Regions from separate parts of the Homo sapiens genome. Here region 2 is reported to be linked to region 1. Evidence: microRNA targets listed by miRTarBase, many of them from high-throughput screens and not tested one by one. Region 1 holds a microRNA gene; the other region holds the end of a gene's coding sequence.

Region 1 (8,192 bases):
GACGAGGTTTCACCATGTTGACCAGGCTGGTCTCGACCTCCTGACCTCGTGATTTGCCCGCTTTGGCCTCCCAAAGTGCTGGGATTACAGGCATGAGCCACTGTGCCCAGTCAAAAGGCCTGCTTTCCTTTCTCTCTCTCTCTCTCTCTCTCTCTCTCTCTCTCTCTCTCTCTCTCTCTCTCTGTCTATTTTGAGATGGAGTTTTGCTCTTGTTGCCCAGGCTGGAGTACAATGGTGCAATCTTGGCTCATTGCAACTTCAAACTCCTGGGTTCAAGCGATTCTCCTGCCTCAGCCTCCTGAGTAGTTGGGATTACAGGCATGCACCACCATGCCCAGCTAATTTTTGTATTTTTAGTAGAGATGGGGTTTCAACATATTGTCCAGTCTGGTCTCAAACTCCTGACCTCAGGTGATCCACTTGCCTTGGCCTCCCAGAGTGCTGGGATTACAGGCATCCAGCCAAAAAGAACTTTCTTTCTTTTTCTTTCTTTCTTTCCTTCTTTCTTTTTCTTTCTTTCTTTCTTTCTTTCTTTCTTTCTTTCTTTCTTTCTTTCTTTCTTTCTTCTTTCTTTCTTCTTTCTTTCTTTTTCTTTCTTTTTTCTCTCTTTCTCTTTCTCCTTCCTTCCTTTCTTTGTTCTTCTTCTTCTTTTTTTTTAACAGAGTTTTGCTCTTATTGCCTAGGCTGGAGTGCAGTGGCACAATCTTGGCTCACTGCAACCCCCACCTCCTGGGTTCAAGCGATTATCTTGCCTCAGCCTCCCAAGTAGCTGGGATTAGAGGCACGTGCCACCATGCCGGCTAATTTTGTATTTTTAGTAGAGTCAGGGTTTCTCCATGTTGGTCACGCTGTTCTCAAACTCCCGACCTCAGGTGATCCACCCACCTCTGCTTTCCAAAGTGCTGGGATTACAGGCGTGAGCCACCATGTCCGGCCCTTTTTCAATTTTTTTATTATTTTTATTTTTTTTATACAAGGTCTCGCTCTGTCACCCAGGCTGGAGTGCAGTGGCATGATCTTGGCTTACTGCAACCCCTGCCTCCCGGGTTCAAGCGATTCTCCTGCCTCAGCCTCTGTAGTAGCTGGGACTACAGGCACCCGCCACCGCACTCGGCTAATTTTTGTATTTTTAGTAGAGACGAGGTGTCACCATATTGGCCAAGCTGGTCTCGAACTCCTGACCTCAGGTCATCCACCCGCCTCGGCCTCCCAAAGTGCTGGAATTACAGGGGTGAGTCAACGCACCTGGCTGGGATCTATCTCATGGGGCTGCCCTGAGGCCTTCAGATCACTCAGCAGGTAGAATGTCTGGCACTGACCCTGGCACAGAGTAAAAGCTTAGGGAAGGGGAGAGAGAAAGGGTGGCAGGTCTTCCTGTGCAACCTGAGGAACTTCACTTTTGTCCTGGCCTGAATGATCAGGTCCTGTACAGCTGTCCCTGATTTATATCCTAACTGTCCCTTCTATGCTTGCTCACCCCCCAGGGCCTGTTCTTTCCCCCACCCCCACCAGGGCCCTTACACTGACTGTTCCTTCAACCCAATGCCCATACCAACATGTGAGCAGAGTTTTCATGTCTTTACCCTCCCTAAAGGCAAGGTTGGTTGCTGAATTCATGTATGTATCTCCAGTGCCTAGTACAACAAGTTTGTTGAGCAAATAAATGGGTGGAATAGATCAGGAAAGAATAACAGCTGCATTATTAGAAAACTTACCGTAAACAGACATGATTGCTAGTGCCATGCCAAGCCATATTGGGACCTCAGGCAAAAGGAAAAGTCAGAAAGGCTGGTTCTGCCTTTATTTACATTTTTGATATTTTGTTCATTGTGGATTTTGGCATACATTTTGATTTCTTAAAACATTGCATCGATTTTTTTTTGAGACAGGGTCTTGCTCTGTCACCTAGGCTGGAGTGCAGTGGTGCAATCATAACTCACTGCAGCTTCGACCTCCTGGCCTCAAGTGATCCTCTCACCTCAGCCTCCCAAGTAGCTGAGACCACAGGTGCCATTCTCTCTCTCTCTCTCTCTCTCTCTCTCTGTTTCTCTCTTTCTCTCTCCCTCTCTCCCTCTTTCTCTCTCAGAAACGGGGTCTCACTATGTTGCCCAGGCTCATCTTGAAATCCTGGCCTCAAGTGATCCTCCCACCTTGGCCTCCCAAAGTGCTCAGATTACAAGCATGAGCCATTGCACCTGGCCTGAAATATTATTTACCTTGATTATTGAGTTTTTTGGTGCCCCTTTAAGTTTTGCACCTGAGGCTGGTGCCTCACCCAACTCACATTAGCCCCTGCCCTGATTATTTCTAACATGCAATCCACACCATATCATTAGTTCCTCAGCAAATACTCTACTATTATCACTACTTCACAGTTGCAAAAACTGAGGCACAACTGTGCCCAATGTCCCAAAGGAAGGAGAAGAAAAATCTGAACTTGAACCCCAGTTTCTTCGTTTTTTGGTTCAGAGCCTGCCCAGTATAGCACTACAATAAGCTGAATTTTATAAATTGGGTTTTGAGTTAAGGAATCAAAAGCTTCAGGCTTAAGTCCCACCTCTGCCCCAGAGTCTTCTGAGCCCTCCATTTTCACAGACGTCAGTTGCCCTAGGTGGAACTGGACTTTAATATTCTCCACATCCCTTATTTTTTCCCAAAACAGTTTACCAGCTTTTTCTTTCCTGAACCAGGAGCAATAGCAAAAATTGGGAATGGGAAGAAACAGGTACCAGCCAGGACACCTGAACGAACTTGGAGCTCAGGAACCCAGGAGGGGATTGGAGAGAGTGGGGAGACTCCATGGTCCACAATGAATGCTCCTTCCCCATCCGAAAAAATCCCCTAGCCCAGTTTTTGGGCAGATGCCAGACTTTTATTCTGAAGCGTGGGCCACAACCTATGAGGTAATCTTTGGAGCTTCATTCTGAGGCGGAATCCCATTGGCCAGTTGGGGAAGCCCCTCCCAGGATTCCTGGCGCTCCGCCTTCCCTGAAGCCTATAAAAGCGCAGGTCCCCGCCTCGGCAGCCACGGGACACCTGCATCTGCCAACAAGACTGGAAGCAGGTGAGGCACACAGAGGGGGAGGCCCGCAGCTGCGTGGGAGGAGGGGTGGTCTGAGGGACGTGGGATGCCGGGAATGAGGCTGGTTTGCAGGTTGGCGCATGGACATTTTCCCAGAAAGGGACAGAGACGGCGAAGTTTGACGGTCTGGAAAGCAGAGACCAGCAGGGCTGACTGCTTGGGAGGTAAGTTCTGGGGACATGGTACAGGGTGAGGAGCAGGTATCAGTGCTAGTTGCGACCCCTCTGTGTCTCCCCCCCGCCACCCCATTGCCATTCTGAAGCTCCCCAGGAAGAAGCTAGGAGGGGAAATAAATTGAGTGGGGGTGGGGTTTCCCAAGAATCGGAGGAACCGAGAACGAAGAGGGGTGGGGGAACGGGGAAAGAGAGAGGAAAATCAAGTTTTCTTCAGCACGAGGGACAGCTCTCCACCGACCGAAGGAGGAGAATGCTATTTATTTCAGCACCAAATATCCGGACAGCGCCTCTCGGGAGGTCCGAGAAGAGAACCGCGATCTGTTTCAGCACCGGGGCTCAGGACAGTTCCCAGCGGGCTCCGTTTCGTCTCCAGAACCCTGGACAGCTCCTCCAGGTAACGGGAGAGCCCTTTGACCCTGATTTTGCAGGGGGAGGACGAGAGAGGGTGGTCTGAGGTGCCTGGCATTTCTGGAGACCTGCACCTCATGTAATGGATTTTTAAACAAAGTATTTTCCAGATAAGCACACACAGAAGTCTGCAATTTTCTTTTTTTTTCGAGACGGAGTCTTGCTCTGTCGCCCAGGCTGGAGTGCAGTGGCACGATCTCGGCTCACTGCAACCTCTGCCTCCTGGGTTCAAGGGATTCTCCTGCCTCAGCCTCCCGAGTATCTGGGATTACAGGCACATGCCACCACTCCCGGCTAATTTTTGTATTCTTAGTAGAGACGGGGTTTCACCATGTTGGCCAGGCTGGTCTCAAACTCTTGACCTCTTCATCCGTCCACCTCAGCCTCCCAAAGTGCTAGGATTACAGGCGTGAGTCACTGCGCCTGGCCCAAGTCCGGAATTTTCAACAGGTAAGATACCTCACTGGGGTAACAGCTGCCTGCTAAGATGACATTATGGTGTCTCTTCCAGACTTCGGTGAGAAACCTTGTGCCAAGCATTTTACATACATCATATCATGCCATCTTCAACCCTAGGACATGGGTGTTACTGTGCCCATGTGACATTTGGGGAACCCAAGGCCCTGAGAAAGGCAGAAAAATAACCCACGCAGGGACTCTCAGCCCACAAGTGAAGCTGTAAGTCAACCCCACCAGTCCAACTCCAAATCCCATGTCTCTGACGTGCCTGGGTGGGAGGTGGGCCCTTGGAGATCAGACCCTGCTTCTCTCCAGGAGAACCGGGAATGGAAAACAGGGAGGCAGCACAGAGGCAGGAAACTCAGGTGTCATAGCTTGGCTCAGGTGAGAAGGAGGAGCTGGGCAGGGGTCTCAGACATGGGGCAGAGGGTGGTGAAGAAGATTAGAGTGGCTGTGGTCTAGTGCTGTGTGGAAGACTAGTGATTTTGTTGTTCTGATGTACTACGACAACAAGTCACAGCCGGCCTCATAGCGCAGACTCCCTTCGACCTTCGCCTTCAATGGGCTGGCCAGTGGGGGAGAACCGGGGAGGTCGGGGAAGAATCGCTTCCACTCGGAGTGGGGGGGCTGGCTCACTCCAGGCGATACAGGCACAGGCAAAGGAGGGAAGCAAACAAGGACATACATCCTGTGCTCATACAGCCATGCACCATGTATGGGGTTTGTCACATCACTCGTACGCCCCCACAAGCCTGGAGATAGAACATACCTGACTCTAAACCCAAGACCTCTAACCACCTTATGGCGCTTTCCTGGGAGACCCAATGAGGGAATGACATTTAAAGCCCTCCCTAGACCAGAGTTCTCAGGGTACTTTTCTATTAAAAAAAAAATTATTATTTTTTTGGCCGGGTGGCTCACGCCTGTCATCCCAGCACTTTGGGAGGCCAAGGCAGGTGGACCACTTGAGGCCAGGAGTTCAAGACCAGCCTGGACAACATGGTGAAACTCCATTTCTCCTAAAAATACAAAAATTAGCTGGGCGTTGTGGCACACACCTGTAGTCCCAGCTACTCGGGAGGCTGAGGCATGGGAATCCCTTGAACCCAGGAGGCAGAGGCTGCATGACCCAAGATTGCACCACTGCACTCCAGCCTGGGCAACAGAGAGAGATTCTGTCTCAAAAAACATTTTTTTTTTCTTTTTTGTAAAGACATGGTCTCCTGCCTCAGCCTCTCAAAGTGCCAAGATTACAGGTGTGAGCCACCGAACCCAGCCTAAGGATACTTTTCAATAAAAGTTCCAGAAGTGGGCTGGGTGTGGGAGCTCATACCTGTAATCCTAACATTTTGGGAGGATGAGATGGGAGGATTGCTTGAGTACAGGAGTTTGAGACCAGCCTGGGCAATATAGTGAGACCCCGTGAGTTGACACATGCCTGTAGTCCCAACTACTTAGGAGGTGGGAGGAACACTTGAGCCTGGGAGATCAAGGCTGCAGTGAGCCATGACTGCACCACTGCACTCCAGACTGGGCAACAGAACAACACCCTGTTTCAAAAAAAAAGTTTCAGAAAAGATTCCTTTCCTGTCTGCTACCCATCAGTGTCATGGGCCAATCATAGGACAAGTGTGAACTTGTGCCCAGTGGTGACTTATGACATCATAAAGGCTCACCACCTTTGCCAGACATGGTGGCTCACACTTGTAATCCCAGCACTTTGGGAGGCCAAGGTGGGAGGATAGCTTGAGCTCAGGAGTTCGAGACCAGCCTGGGCAACATAGCAAGACCTCATCTCAGTAAAAAATAATAAATAAATAAATAAATATATAAGACTCACTCCCAATTCTCTGCAACACCCTAATCAAGTGAAAAACTGCACATGGTTACCTGTTCTCCAGCCTCAGGGCTTTTGCCTCTGCTGTTCCTGCAGCTTGGAATGCACTCCCTCCACCTCCAACCAGAGCTCCCCACAACTGACCCTGCCTTCTTCTGCAAGCTCCATTTCATCAAGGGAAACGATCCTTATTGCCTCACCATTTCCCACGTGAAGTCTGTATTGACATTCTCATAGACCTGGGATATTGTGTCTGCAGCACATAGTCCAATTATTTTCATGTTATCTACTGACAGGTCTATTTGTCTCCCTGTTACACTGTGAGCTCCGTGAGGGCAGAAACAATGTTAGTATTTTCACTGCTGTGTCCCCAGCGCCTGGTCCGGGGCCCGGCACACAGCAGGCATATAATAAGCATGTGTTGAATCAATAAAGGCATCAAAGAATAAACCAATACATCAATCAATAAATGAATGAATGGCCTCAGCACACACAGGAAGATCCTTCTTCTAGGTCTCCCCCAGAGAGATACTGGAGGGCAATGGTTGCTGGAGGTGTTTATTGGGGAAGCATAATTGAATTTGTGGACACTTAAGGGCCGGCCAGCCAACTCACAGCCCCAAGAGAGAGAGCCAGGCTCATTTAATTAGCAATTACAAGGCACTGATTCCTCATTAGCTCTGGCAACCCTCGTCTCCCTCCTCAGCCCCAGACAAATGAAATCTTTCTCTCTCTCCCAGGAGTACTGCCTCAGTGGGTCCATTAACAAGCAGAGAAAATGAGATTAGAAGACACCTAAATGCCAGAGGCACTTTATGAATGGGCTGAGCAGAGGGAGGTTCAATGTCTGGGTTAGGTCTAATTGTGGGAGGTTTCCTGGTCTATTTAGAATTGCCCCCTGGGAATGCAAGGTCTTTCAGAAAGGAAAAGGCACACAGATATTGCCTTCTGGGGTCCTCAATGGAGGAGGACATTCTGCTATGGGTGTCTCCCAGTCACCCCAAATTAATCATTTCAAAGTGAACACTCAATCTGCCCAGCCCCTAGCTTCCTCCCCTGACATGCCCATGAATATGACAGTCCCTCTACATGCCCAAGATCCTCCCCTCCTCATCCACTCCCCATGATCCCCAAGATGAGTCACTGTGCTCAAATCCATCCTCTCTCCTCCAGCCCTCTGCCTCCATGACCTCCCTCCAGCCCTCTGCCTCCATGACCTCCGCCTCCCTGCATGTCCGGATCTCCTCACTGTCTCCCCTCTGAGCATACACACACATACAGCCTGTTCATTCTCTACATGCAGCGAGGGGACTTTCCAGAACACACATCTGACCAAGTTCCACTCCTGCCTGTCACCCTTCCAAGAGCCCCACTGACTGCAGAATAACGTTCAAATATCCGGTTGGGCGTGGTGGCTCATGCCTGCAGTCCCAGCACTTTGGGAGGCCAAGGTGGGTGGATCACTTGCACAGGACCACAGGCGTGTGCCACCACACCCAGCTAATTTTTATATTTTTGGTAGAGACGGAGTTTCACCATGTTGGCCAGGCTGACCTCAAGTGATCCACCCGCCTCAACCTCCCAAAGTGCTGGGATTACAGGCATGAGTCACTGCACCGGTCTAATTTTTTCAGAGTCTCACTCTTGCCCAGGCTGGAGTGCAGTAGCATGATCTCGGTTCACTGCAACCTCTGCCTCCTGGTTTCAAGCGATTCTCTTGGCTCAGCCTCCTGAGCAGCTGGGATTACAGGCACGTGCCACCACACTTAGCTAATTTTTGTATTTTTAGTAGAGATGGGGGTCTCACCATGCTGGCACAGTTGGTCTTGAACTCCTGACCTCAAGTGATCCACCCACCTCGGCTTCCCAAAGTGCTGGGATTACAGACGTGAGCCACCGCGCCCGGCCAGCCTTTATTGATTCTTTTTAAAGCCACACTAACCTTTTATTTTCCCCCAAAGACCCCTGGGAGCCCTCAGTTTTTCCTGGCAGTTTCATCTTTGTACCCCTGACCTCCCCACACACACGCCTAGCTCAGTGCTGGCATCCAATATTCACTTTGGGTATAAATGCTTGTGCCTGAGCCTATCACCTTCATCACACAGAAAATCCTGGAGGCCACACACCCCTGTAAAGACGAGCCATTACCCACAGAGGTCCAACCAACTTACCACCCTCTCCCAGCCACCCCCAAGGACCCAGCTTGCAGCTGCCTGCTCAATGGCTTTAG
Region 2 (8,192 bases), not on the chromosome of region 1:
AAAATTAAGGCTGATTCCTAAAAGGTATGGAAGAAAAGCCAGAATGTTATTGTTTGTAAACCACTAAAGACTTAATATGAACAGTTTACATAACTATCTGGTTAATTTGGGCAAATGAGCACTTGTGTTTGGTTTCTAACTTTGCTGGAAGGTGTTGGTCTAATAAAGAAAACTGCTTTAAGTAGGAGCACTTTTAGCATACACAAAAATAAAAATCCTTTGTAAATTTCACTTGCAATGTTGTGCAACTGTATATCTTTGCCTTATGCATTTGAAACTGATTATGTATTTTATGCAAAATGGTATATTTTTCCCAAAGCTAAGAATATGGACAATGATGATATGATAGCTAAGCTAGTTTTATCTTTCTAGCTTTTATCAACTCTTGACTTGTTGAATTCCTACAATGTGCAAGGCAGTATGCAATGTGTTGAACATATATGAGGTCTACACATAAAACAAAGGGAAACTGAAGTCTTTGGAAGCAAAATAGTTGTCAATTTGAAAACCAACGGTAATCATTTTCCTCAACAGTATTTCTAAAAGTTGAGAATGATGTCAACTAAAACAAAATACAATCATCCCCACCTCTACCAAAGATGGAACTATAACACAGAAATCATTTCCACAGAAGACACGAGAATGTTCATACTAGAGCCATAGGGACCAAAGCAGCAAGATAAACAATGAGGCAGTCACAGAATATCTACTAGCTACTGTACTGGTAATAGTTTATAAAAAATACGATCTATACTAAAATTTAAGAGCTAATAATATATTTAGCATATTTTTGCCTTTTCTTTTTGCCACTGAATATAAAATTTGTCCTGAATTTACTAAATCTTCTACACCCTGAGGAATAACAACAGACTAATAAAAGTAACGTCAGGGTTAGCTTTCTGGACAATAGAATCATCCAGAAAGCACAAATTATATATAGCTAATATTCTTGGAAGCACAAGGTTTCATCAGCAGACTAAACTACTGCCCTGTATTGTTCTTAGCAAAGAGTTTGGTTTTACAGTGTTAACATGGCCTGGTGAGAGTAGAGAAGTCAAAGTTGGGAGCCTGAGGTTTCCTCTCCCACCTGAGATCCACAACTGATTCATTGGTTTTCTGTCTTCACCATGAACATGGCATATTGCTGCCCTTTAGGAATATATTATTCAACAGTTCTCTGTAAAAGCACTTTGGAATCTTTAGCTATATATTTCTATGAAATTATATTTGCTATCTTGAAATATGGAATTCCTATCCCTCCCTTCTCCATATACAAACAGATAAAATGATACATTTAAAATTTCATCTACGCATTTACTTCTTTTCCTCCAATACCTGAGAGAAAGCAAGTACTGTTTTCCCCCTTTCAACTATATTACATTATGCCTGAATTTGAGAGGGAAGGAAGGTCCTAAAGTAAGGCAAAGGATTCATTTAGGACAACGTTCTGGCCTTTATTTTAGGGCAGAGTGCCACTGTTTCCCTTTGGACGCAGGTTTCAGGCTAATCTATTTGTGCACACACCATCCTCTAAATGGGATGCCTCCAACCCCCAAAACGTTAGTTGCCAGAAAGAAAGAACTAAATCTTGGTAGGGTGCTTAAAATGATAACTAATGGAATAATCAAAGCATCCTGCCTGCTTATATCAGTCTCTCACTGAAGGATAAAATACCCTACGGGGCCATGCCTAGCGATGGGAATAAATAAAACAATGGGCCACAATCAACTGTTTGATAAAACTTCCATCCTGTTTTCTTAAACATTAAATATAATCTTGCTCCCAAAAAAGTAAGAAAGGCACTCGAATTAACACAGTCTCTACAGTTATTTTTTAAAAGACACTATGTGACAATAAGGAATTCTTAGGGTTGATTTTTCTTCATTAACTTCTCAGTGCCTCCACACATCTCTCCATTAAATGGGAGCTTATTACAGAGCATACCTAGGTATGGGGAGGCAGCAACACATAAAGTGCTAGGGTTTGCACAGTTCTATTTGAGAAATTTATTCAAGACAAAAGGTTCAGTTGTTATCAGGTTCAAATTTTCTAGCATACTTTAAATATCTGTAAGTTTTAAAATATAATTTTCCAGTAGCAAAATAATAGTTAGCTTAAAACAGCTTTTTAGAAAAAAAAAATCATGTTACTTCCCTTTACAACTAAATCTTTAGCATCTTCTATAACTCAGGGGAACTAAGGTAGGGATTATTAGATTGTTGTACAGTAGGTGGTATCTGCCATCTTGTGCTATGTAAGAGAAAATTATTAAACTGACAATTTGTTTGCTTCAATACTAAAAATTCCTTTTACACACACATACATGTGTGTGTGGCCCAACAAGAATAAACTGGCATGACCTGAACATACCTAAGTGGCATACGATCTACTATGTATTTGCTTTCCTGCAAACTACTGCATAAAAATCCAAAAACTTTTGTTTCCGTATCTTGTATCACATAAGCCCTTATTTAAAAATTTAAGTACTTTTAGAGATAACCTGTATATATTTAACCCTACTAATAATTAAGCCTTTAAGTGAGAACTGTACCATAGGAATAAGAAATATGACTGAAAGTCTGGGCCCAGAGTTTCTTAAGAGGTAATAAAATGCTAAAATCTACAGAAGACAAAGGGGACATTAATACATATCAAATCCCTAAGCTTAAAAAATGACTCATACAGATTTAAGAAATATCTGAAAGAGTCACAGTTCAAGTTGCGGGGAAAAAAGGAGAAGCATAAAATGATATGTGCACAGGTACAGATCAGTAAGTCACTGAAATCAAAGAATTTCTTCAGATGATTAAAAGCAGTTTCGGCTCTGTATGCAGGATCTGTCCTCTAGTATCACAAATGAACAGAAAGTGGTGTTCTTAATGCAAGTGGGTTCTTTAGCTCTACAAATTTTTAATATATATTATAATACAGTTAATTGACAATTACAGAGCTGCATTTCTTGGCTGGGATTTAACAAGTTTAAACAAGGTAATGAAATGAAGAAAAAAAAAGTCTAAATCAACTTACTCTATATGCAATAGCTCTTCCCAAGTATTACGAAACTAGAAAGCATCATTCATTCCCAATCCATTGCACTAATCCATCAATTTCTCAATCATCACTCATTCTTAACACTCACAAACAATCTTTCTCTTCCTGTTAGTCATTCATTAATTTAATAAATATTTAATGAGTCCTCACAATGTGCAGGGCACAAGTAGAATCTGGAAAACACCGTACTGCCAAAATAGGTACACTAAAGTACACTAAGGTACACTAAAGGCGGGGTGAAGGTGGTGTTGGAGACAGTTACAGAGCTTAATGCTTTTTGCTTGTCAGTAGTATTCTTAATCCACAGTAGGATGACCCACTGTTCTTCCAGTGAAAGTTTAATGAAATATGTGTCAATAAGCCATCTTTTCCTTTTAACAATTAGATTGTTATAGAAAAATAAGTGAAGACTAAAAGTCCCAGAAAACAGACACATCCTTTCTACTACATAAGCTCAGTCAAAGACATTATCATGCTACAGCTAGCGGGTTTAAATATTAACCACTTAGGAAAAAAACCAACCATATAGGGCAATATTAGGATTTTCTGTGAATGAACAATTAAAAAATGCAAACTCTAGAAATAAAGCAGCACACAAAAGTTACATACTAACAGTATCCTTTGGGTATTTGCATTTTTGCTCTCTACTTTAAACTTTTAGGAAGGAAACAAGACATATTAAAGGACTGTGCGGCTTCAGAAAAGAGTGGGTTAAGAGCCTTAGAAGATATGAAAATAGTTTACACACCAAAGATAGGCAAGATAATCAGTGGAAGGTACACAAAGGCATGGAGCACTATAAAACTTAGCTAGTGTTTTATAGGGTATTGTCTACACTCATTTCCTGACATTTTTTCACATCAAAGCATAAGCCCTATTACTCAAAATGTGAAAAATGATTTTTAGGAAAAAAGGTAATACTGAGTTAGGCCAGAATCTGGCAACATATTTTAGTGGAATGGGCTGAACCACCCATGTCTTCTCTGTGTAGTTTGCCCCCAAACACTCACAGGAGCTAAAAATCATAAACTTATGATTTTATCCATAGAGGTCTAGGTGGACCTTGAGGTATTTAATTCAAAATATGCTTTGTACACAAAGGGCCATGGAATTATGTTCATAATGGTATTTTTTCATCTAAATAATATAAAAGCTATAAAAAGGTAATTTTTTACTTGAGAGAAGAACAAATTCTGTCTACTGGGGCCAGGCTAGACAACTTTTCTGGCGTTCTTAAGTCTCAACTCACTTCAACAGTCTGCCACTCAACAAAACCATGATGCCAAAGAAAAGGACATATTTCTTCTTCTTTAAGGCAGTCTACCTAACTCAAGTCCAGGCTTTCCGTAACAGTGAGAGAGAGGTTTACTTTCCCTACATCTTTATCCCCACTTTACAAATTACCTAGCAAGTAAAAAGAACAACAGGCAAAGCATTGTTGTCACACTTATTTCTGCCACTATTACTCACATTCTGCACAGATAGGACAACTGACAGCTTCCATCATTAGGGAAACTTTTAGAAGGGCCACTCTTCATATTTCTGGTATATGAATGTATTTTAGATGAGGTATGAAATTCATTGCAAATAGGGGGTAGAAATCTTGAAGACACACCCCTGAAGTAAGAAAGGAAAGGTATACAAAAATGACACACAAAAGTGACAAAAAATACGTAATGGATTGGCAAAACAAAGTATATGAAAAGAAGAAACAGACCACTTACAAAAGGGCAAATATAAGAAAGCAGACATTACATGGCCCATTCCCCACCCTCATCCCACCTACCTGAAAAACTCAGCCCTTGTTATTGGAAACATAAGATACGGCTATAATGTGGATACTTTGGTACCTCATCCCTGATTAAGTTCAGTATCAAAGTGTTTTGTTTTGCACATACTATTCCTTCCCTTGGCATTTGCCAGTAAACTTTAACAGTCACTTCATGATAATTTTATAGTTTCCATAGTGTATCCTCAATAATTTAGATTTTTAAAAAGGAATATTTTTATGGATCTATTTCTTTATATATTTCTCCCATTTGTCATAAGTGAATTTGAAATTAAAAAGTAGTAATAGCTAAAAATGGCATTCCAGGTTTTCAGGAAAAAAAAATCAATTTTATAAGGACTGATGTGTTTTGGCATATACCAAATTTGAGGTAAAAATAATCTATCAAAACTAGCAATAAAAATAATTTTCCTTTACTGCAATTACATAAACTCTTAAGTTAGTTTTTTCTTAAATAACCATTTAAAAAATGGATTACATTGGAAGCATTTTTTTCATATAAATTCCAATACTTCTGACTTTGGTAATTGGGTAGAACATGCTAGAGAAAGAGAACTAGTTTACATTTTTAAACATTCGCCCATCTAGCCATTTGATTCTCAAAACAATTACATCAAGTTATTCGGCATTCATACCAACATTCTTCAGTTGAACTGCAACATAAATGTTTATTTTCAATTTGTTTTAGAGACAGGGTCTCAACTCTATTGCCCAGGCTGAGTACAGTGGTGCAATCATGGCTCACTACAGCCACAAACACCTGGGGCTCAAGCAATCCTTCTGCCTCAGCTTCCTGCATAGCTAGGAACACAGTTGCATAGCACCATGCCTAGCTATTTTGTTTTACTTTTTGTAGAAATCGGGTCTTGCTATGTGGCCCAGGTTGGTCTCAAAGTCCTGGGCTCAGGCAATCCTCCTGCCTAGGCCTTAAATTTTTAATTTTTAAAAGAATTTGCCTATGCAGCAATTGGACTGAGGGGGGTAGAGGTGTGTGTGTGTGAACCAATCAGGAAAACCAAATGAGAAGCCCCACATATAGAAATACAAAGGGTGAGAAGTTAAACAGAAAATTTAAGACTCGCTGTTCAGCAGGAAGGAACTATACGATTATTTTATCCCCACAGGAATGCCAGTTATTAACAAAATAAATAAAATGAAAGATTTACTATGGACTTTCAACCTAAAGACGAAGAACATATGGTTAGCCAATAATAGTAAACAGTTCATGCAACTATGTAAATAATAAAAGAAAGCAATATTGCACTAAAAGGGGAACCTTGTAGGACTAATTCACCTCTTTCATTGACTCAAAGTAACCAGCCATTTCCTGTATGCACTGGCAAACCTGGCTTGCTCCACGTTCCGACAGGTGGACAATACTTGATCAATGAACCTGTGCTCCATTTCTAGGCCTAGGGAGTCTGGAACTGGCGTCCGCTTCAGGCGTTTGGTTTCCTGGGAATAGCCTTGCTTGCTAGAGTCATTCAGTCCATCTACTTCCATTGCTTGAGACAGCTGGGAGCCTGCTGGGATAAGGTGCAAGTCACTCAAAGTCCCCCCAGGGCTGTCTGCAGGTGACAACTGGGTCATGCTGTGAGGAAACCTACCATTTAAGTGATGCTGAAGGTAGAAAATATGCCGCCTGCGATAGAGAGGGGAAGGAAGAGAATAAAGAAAATCACATTACAAAGTCAAGCTTTTCCAGAAAAAAAAGTTTGCAATTTCAAAACATACAGTATTCAATTCACTGCCCATTTCATAACCAAGTTATACAGAGGAAGGAGGAAAAACAGTAGAGATGATGTTCCAGGATATTTGGACAAAGAAAGCCTTATAACTCCAGCTTACAGGTTTGTTTGTGAGAAAGAATACAGTCCTAAGGTTTTTCATAAGCATTTACTGAGATGACAATGACTTGGAGATGGTACTCTATGGTAACCGTAATATAAAACTAGAAATATGTGACAGTCTTATTTCTGCTATAAGTTATAAATATAAAACAAAACCAAGACAAATCTCATTGATATCCTAGAAGACAAGTGATTCAGAAATAAGGGGAATGAACAGTTCCTTTAGAGGCTTAATCTGTGGCCTCTATCAAGTACTTTAATAAAAATAACATATCTGTTGTAGTGGGTCTTATTCCCTAAAAGTCAACTGAACTTTACCCTAAATCCATCACCAACTACAGTTTTAAACATCCACATGCATTGGGGATGTGCTGGGCTCTGAGCAAAACATGTAAAAGATACAGTTCCTGTTCTCCCTCCGAGGAGAGCAATTCTCCTGCCCTTACAACCACCTACAATTGTTTGTTAAAAATGAAGATTCCCGCGTCTAATCTCCAAAAATTTCAATTCAGTGGGGGCACATCCATGTACAATGAACTGTATAACTTCTAGGTTGTTACATCTCATCATTCACATTAGCAACTCTAAGCCCTTAAGAGAATTCTATTCATTTTCCTTGCATATTCTGAAGCAGACAGGGAGCACATAATGTTCCACTTTTACAGGGGGTAAAACTTAAAGGCTAGATAAGCTGCCTAATGACAATGAGTCAGCAGTAGAAAACCGGCCTATGTAATACAGGCATACCTAGTTTATATTATGCTTTGCTCTAATGTGCTTTGCAGATACTGTATTTTTTATAAACTGAAGGTTTGGCAATCTTGTGTCAAGCAAGTCTATCAGCACAATTTTTCCAACAAAATGTGGTCACTTTTTGTCTGTGTCACATTTTGGTAACATTACTAATATTTCAAACTTTTTCAAGATTATTATATCTGTTATGTGATCTGTGATCAGCGATCTTTGATGTTACTACTATAACTATTTTGGGGTGTCACAAACACACCCATATAAGATGATAAACTGAACCAATAAATGTTGTGTGTGTTCTGATTGCTCCACCAACCAGCTCTTCCCCCATCTCTCTCCCTCACCCCAGGCCTCCCTGTTCCCTGAGATACAACAATATTGAAATTAGGCCAAGCAATAATCCTACAATGACCTCTAAGTGTTCAAGTGAAAGGAAGAGTCACAGGTCTCTCACTTTAAATCAAAAGCTAGAAATGATTAAGCTAAGTGAGGAAGGCATGTCCAAAGGTGAGACAGGCTGAAAGCTAGGCCTCTTGTGCCAGTTAGCCAAGTTGTCAATGCAAAGGAAAGTTTTTGAAGGAAATTAAAAGTGGTAACCCAGTGAACACACAAATGATAAGCGAAACACAGTCTTACTGCTGATATGGAGAACGTTTTAGTGCTCTGGATAGAAAAGCAGATCAGCCACAACATTCCCTTAAGCCAAAACCTAATCCAGACTAAGGCTCTAATGCTCTTTAATTCTAAGACTG

The links. The annotated mature microRNA hsa-miR-7-5p reads UGGAAGACUAGUGAUUUUGUUGUU and lies in region 1 at 4,595-4,618, shown strand. An mRNA with a match to its seed (bases 2 to 7 or 8) in the 3' UTR can be bound and repressed. Matches are read on the target gene's strand: a 7mer-m8 pairs with bases 2 to 8, a 7mer-A1 pairs with bases 2 to 7 and ends in A, and an 8mer does both.
Region 2: miRTarBase lists PTAR1 as a target of hsa-miR-7-5p. Seed matches in the 3' UTR shown: 7mer-A1 at 28-34.

What each region holds. Positions count from the first base shown.
Region 1 is chr19:4,766,106-4,774,297 of GRCh38, forward strand. It overlaps MIR7-3 (microRNA 7-3), which reads left to right and starts at 4,565; the gene lies at 4,565-4,674. MIR7-3HG (MIR7-3 host gene) reads left to right here and starts at 3,000. Exons shown (of 3, transcript NR_027148.1): 1 at 3,000-3,246; 2 at 3,525-3,652; 3 at 6,059-6,451. RefSeq lists a silencer at 3,432-3,726.
Region 2 is chr9:69,712,203-69,720,394 of GRCh38, forward strand. PTAR1 (protein prenyltransferase alpha subunit repeat containing 1) reads right to left here. Exons shown (of 8, transcript NM_001099666.2): 7 at 6,448-6,482; 8 at 1-6,366. The coding sequence ends at 6,140. Among named protein-coding and RNA genes, the nearest start is that of PTAR1, 44 kb to the right of the region's middle.